Regions from separate parts of the Homo sapiens genome. Here region 2 is linked to region 1. Evidence: fine-mapped expression QTL. A gene starts in region 1. The other region holds a variant in brackets. All regions are shown on one strand. Distances are from middle to middle. Region 1 holds the start of ZNF641 (zinc finger protein 641). Region 2 has its middle 58 kb from the start of H1-7.

Region 1 (2,919 bases):
TGGGGTGAAAATGATACACACCACTTCCAGGACTGGCCCCTAATATCTCTGACAAGTTAACCACGGCCAGCCTCCCTTATCTGAGGGCCACAGATTTGACTACATTACCAAGGCCTCGGCATGGGAGAACCACCAAATGCAAGAAGCCTGGTCCTTCAATGAATTCAAGAAGTACAGACCCCACCCTCTGGCCCCAACCAACTTGTTACCACACTGTGACTTGTATGAACATAAGCCTTTATGGAGTTAAGCCCCGAGATACTGGTTTTGCTAGCCTACTCCAATTAACGCACCTTATATTTACCACCAGTGGTAGCATAAGTGAAAAGAACCCCTGGACTTAGTTCCAGGACCCGGGATAAAAATTCTGGCTCTACTACTACCCCGACATATCCCATGATCTGCTCCTAGAATATGCTCTATACTCTTCCCAACTGCGTGTCTACTGCATTTTCCTCTTTCATTAGACAGCCCTCCTGACTCTTCTCTGCCTCACGATTTCTGTCAGAGTGGGGGGCCTTCTCTGACCTCCGTCCCATACGTGGTCACTTCTCTTTGCTTCAAGTGCAGCGTACGTTCCTCTGTTTTAGAATCTACGTTTTTATTGCAAATATTTGTTGACATGTGCTTCCCCAGACTGTGAATCCTTTAACTCCCAGCATTTAGTTACAGTGTCTGGCACACGTAGAAAATAAATATGCATTAAACGAATGATTGTCACATATGACCTTAAGTGAGTCAATTATTTTTTAAGTCTACTAAATAAAATTTTTGAAAATTGTTGTAATGATGAAATAAGGAATGTGAATGTGACTTGTAGGTTATAAACAGATTCTAACAGCAATGGGTTTACTCACTGTTTGTAGGCCCTTCTCATCTTTTCTAGTCAAATCCATCTTAATGCTGCAAGGTAGCACTATCCAATAGAAATATAATGCAAGCCATATTTATAGCCACATTTAAAAAGTTAAAACCAGGTGAAATTAATTTTAATATATTTAACCCAATATACCCAAAATATCACTTTTTAAATTAAATCTTCTAAATCTTGGAACACATCTCTATTCAGACCAGCCACATTTCGAGAGCTCAGGTGTCACCTGCGGCTACGGCTCCCGCAAATGGGACAGCAGCCGCAAGGCCAACTTCAGATAGCAACCTGACTTCCCCTCAGGCAGAATAAGTGACTCCTCCTCAGTGCTCTCTCAAGCCCTTTATCCTATCGTGAAAACTAGAGGGTACGCTCCTTGAGGAATTCCAGACTGTTGTCTGGAGAAATCGCTCTCGGCCTCGGTCTGGCCTGTAACGGGCGGTTACGCAATTCCAGGTAATTGACGAACCCTGAGGACAGAACTCCGTGGGAGGCCCAGTAGCCAGAGCGGAAAATGGTCAGTCAGGCAAGAGTGCGGGCAAGTGGCCACAGCAGGCTGCGATTCCGGCGCCCGCCGCCCTCCAAGCGTCTCGGGCCGCACCCTCCCCACAGCGGCGGGCGCGGAGGTCCCGGGTTCGCGTTTGGGGGCGCCTGAGCCGCAGCCCCGCCCCCTCCCGTCCCTCCCTCCCTCCCTCCCTCCCACTCCTCTCCCTCCCACTCCTCTCCCTCCCACTCCCCGCACCTCCGCCGCCGCAGAGCCCCGGAAGCGGGCGGGGATTTCCTGTGCCCGCCCCGCCCCGCCCGCGCCTGCCGGGCCGCCGTCTCCGCCTGTCGCTGGCTCCGCCGGCCGCCGGCTCCCAGACGCAAGCGGAGGGCGGAGGGGAGGGGCAGGCGGCGCCCGGGAGGGAGGCACCGGGCCGCGGGCCAAGCCTACCGGGGGTGAGTGGAGCCGGGCCGGAGGGAGCTGCGGCTGGAGGGAGGGACGCCTGGCTTCCCGGGGCGGCTGGTGGGGGCTCGGTCACCCATAGGGGCTGGGAGGAGGATCGGCGCGTCTTCCGGGTTGCTGCCTTTCCCGGGGGTCTGCCCCGCTGACATTCTGTGCCCGCCTCTCGCCCTGTCTCCCCGTGCCCATCGCAACTGTCAGGCCCTGCGGGCTCCCGCCGCTGTCACTCGCGCACAGGTTACCCCGTGGCTCCCTTTCTCTTCACTTGCTCATGCCCCAGCTCATGGGAAACCTGTTTTCTGACCTCACTTCCCCTGCTCCAGTTCTGCCTTGCTCGGATTCTCTGAAATCTGACCCTTTCCAGGGGCACTGTGACAAGAAGAAGGGAAGAAGCAACCTTACCCCTGAGCAGGCTCCCGTCCCGCCCATGCCCTACCCGTGGCAGGGGCCAGGGTTCTCTGATGGACGGAGCCAACTCGTCCGTGTGCCCTTGGGCTACTCATTTTTATAACATGGCCCCTTTTCTGTTCATCAGCACTGGCTGCAGAAACTTCCTTTTGCAGGTCCCTTGCTACCCATATGTGTGAAGAAAAGGGGGAAATGAAAGCCCTAGAACCCACACTGCAGTGGGCATGGGATCATCCTGGAACCAGGAGAAACGAGGTTAGGGCTACCACCTTAACCGCCCAGGTGCTGGCTCTGCGTGAATATCTTAGGAAATGCAAGCTGAGGACAGGTACCCATCCCATCCTTTGCTGAGATTTTTGCTAGCACTTCCACGGATTTCTGTCAGTGGTATAGAAAAACTTACAGCTGGCCCAATGGGCTCTGCACAAAGAGGCTTCCCATTAAGAGACTCTGCTACCTGGGGGAGATGGAGAAAGGGTTTGAGACAAGTGTCCAGATATGTAGCTAGAGGTAAAGCCTTCAGGGAGGATTTGCACAGGAGCTAGAGAACCAGAAAGATGGGACGAAGAGGGAGAATTAGTGCCCTGTGTGTTAAAAGTGGATACAGAGCTGGAATTCAGAGAAGAGAGCTAAAATGGAAGTTTCCCTTTATTGCTTTAGCAAGAATTTTCCTTTCTCATGAAAAGTCTCTGAAAAG
Region 2 (2,919 bases), 80 kb after region 1:
AGTGAAGATAAAATGAAATCATTTAAAAAAGTTTAATACGGCTGGTCGTGGTGGCTCACGCCTATAATCCCAGCACTTTGGGAGGCCAAGGCAGGCGGATCAGGAGGTCAGGAGATTAAGACCATCCTGGCTAACATGGTGAAACCCTGTCTCTATTAAAAATACAAAAAATTAGCCGGGCGTGGTGGCAGGCGCCAGTAGTCCCAGCTACTCGGGAGGCTGAGGCAGGAGACAGGAGAATGGCCTGAACCCGGGAGGCGGAGCTTGCAGTGAGCCGAGATCGCGCCACTGCACTCCAGCCTGAGCAACAGAGCGAGACTTTGACTCAAAAAAAAAAAAAAAGTTAAATACAAAAGTAGGCAGAAAAATTCCACACCCATTTATTACCAAACCTCTTGGAAACTATGTATAGAAGGAAACCTTTCTGAACTGAAAAAGAATACCTTAAAAAATCTGCAGTAGTAGATATTCTAAGAGTACCTTAAAATAGTGTATTTAATAATGATGGACCAAATCTTTTTATCCTAAGACTGAGAAAAGGCAAAAATATCTGTTATCACCACTCTTATTCAACATTATACAGAAGGTCTAGCCTGTAAAATAATGCCAAAAGAAAAAAAGGAATAAAAAGAAAAGAAAGAAATGAGTGACAAAGAGAGAAGGTGGGCAGAGGGAGGAAGAAAAGGGATACAGATTAGAGAGAAATAAATGAGGCCGCGCGCAGTGGCTCACGCCTATAATCCCAGCACTTTGGGAGGCCGAGGCAGGTGGATCACAAGGTCAGGAGTTTGAGACCAGCCTGGCCAACATAGAGAAACCCCTCTCTACTAAAAATACAAAAAATTAGCCAGGTGTAGTGGCGGGCACCTGTAATCCCAGGTACTCGGGAGGCTGAGGCAGGAGAACCGCTTGAGCCTGGGAGGCGGAGATTGAAGTGAGCCGAGATAGCGCCACTGCGCTCCAGACCAGGCGACAGTGCGAGACTCCGTTTCAGAAAAAAAAAAAAAAAAAAAAAGAGAGAGAGAGAAAGACATAATGAAAGCTGTCTCTATTCACAGATGACATGGTTGTTGACAGAGAATCTGCAAAATAAGTCAGTTCAGCAACGTCAATGTCCAAAATTGTGTCTAACAAGACATCTACAATACCTTTATGATAAAAACTACAAAGAAAAAAAGAAATCAAAGGAGACATAAATAAGTGAAAAGATATATTGTGTTCATGAATTGGAAAACTAAATATTGTTAAAATATCCTTTCTCCCTCACTGATATATAGATTCAAAACAATCTCCATAAAGATACTAGACAAATTTT[C/G]GTAGAAATCAGAAAACGAATTCTAAAATGTATTTGGCAATGCAAATGAACTAAAGTATCCAAAACAATTTTGAAAAAAAGAACACAGCAGGTTATTTTGCAAGTATAAAAAACGGATTCTTCAGTTTATACAGAAAGGCAAAAGACCCAAAATAGCCAACACAATATTGAAGGAGAACAAAATTGGAGAACTGACACTCCCCAGCTTCAAAGCTCAATATAGGGGGAGAGCATTAGGGAAAAGAGCTAAAGCATGTGGGGCTTAATACCTACCTGATGGGTTGATAGGTGCAGCAGACCACCATGGCACATGTTTATTTACCTATGTAACAAACCTGCACATCCTGCACATGTACCCTGGAACTTAAAAAAAAAAAGACTTAATATAAAACTATAATAATTAGAAGTGTGGTATTGGCAAAAAAAAGAAAGAAAGAAATAGGCTAATGGAATGGAATAGTGAGCCCAGACATAAACCCATACAAATATAGTCAATTGATCTTTGACAAAGGAGCAAAGGCAATTAAACAAAGAAAGGATATTCTTTTCAACAAATAGTGCTGAAAAAAATTAGACATCCACATGCAAAGAAATGAATCTACACATAGATTTTACACCTTTCACAACAATTAACTCAAATACATTATAGACCTAAATATAAAATTAAAAACTATAAAAATACTAGAAATAATATAGAAGAAAATCTAGGTGACCTTAGCTTTGACAATGACTTTTTAGATAACACCACCAACAGCATGATGCATAAAAGAAAAAGCTAAGTTGTATTTCACTAAAATTAAAAACTTGTGCTTTTGTGAAAGCCAATGCTCAGAGAATAAAACCAGCCATAGACTGCAAGAAAATATTTGCAAAACATGTATCTGTTATGGGACTGGTGTCCAAAATATACAAAAATGTTTATAACTCAACAATAAGAAAACAACAACCTAATCAAACAGTGGACAAAAATCTGAGCAGACTCCTCACCAAAGAAGACATGCAAATGGAAAATGTGTGTATGAAAAGATGTTCAATCATCTATCATTAGGGAATTGCAAATTAAAACATCAGTGTGATACAACTGCATACCTATTAGGATGGCTAAAATCCCAAATATTGGCAACACAAATGCTAGCAAGGATGTGGAGCAATGAGAAGTCTCATTTATGGCTGATGGGAATGCAAAATTGTACAACCATTTTGGAATCCAGTTTGGCAATTTCTTACAAAACTAAACATGCTCTTACCATATGATCCAGCAGTCACAGTCCTTGGTATCTACTGAATGAGATGAAAACTGCACACAAATGTTTATAGCAGCTTTTTTTCACAACTATCCAAACTTGGAAGCAACCAAGATGTCATTCAGTAGGTCAATGGATGAACAGACTGTGGTACATCTTTACAGTGGAATATTATTCAACAATAAAAAGAAATTAGCTATGAAGCCACAAAAAATATATGGATGATCCTTAAATATATATTGCTATGCGAAAGAAGCCTATCTAAAAAGACTACGTCTTGTATGATTCCAACTATATAATGTTCAGGAAAAGACAAAACATGGAAATGGTTAAAAAAAATCAGTGGTTGCTAGCTATTTA

Evidence for each region.
Region 2: its variant is fine-mapped to the expression of ZNF641 in whole blood (INTERVAL, PIP above 0.99).

What each region holds. Positions count from the first base shown.
Region 1 is chr12:48,349,677-48,352,595 of GRCh38, reverse strand. ZNF641 (zinc finger protein 641) reads left to right here and starts at 1,677. Exons shown (of 6, transcript NM_001172681.2): 1 at 1,677-1,810. RefSeq lists silencers at 1,167-1,246, 1,527-1,956 and enhancers at 922-1,658, 2,097-2,166.
Region 2 is chr12:48,269,339-48,272,257 of GRCh38, reverse strand. No RefSeq gene overlaps it. Among named protein-coding and RNA genes, the nearest start is that of H1-7, 58 kb to the left of the region's middle. The variant C/G (reference allele first, on the strand shown) is at 1,316.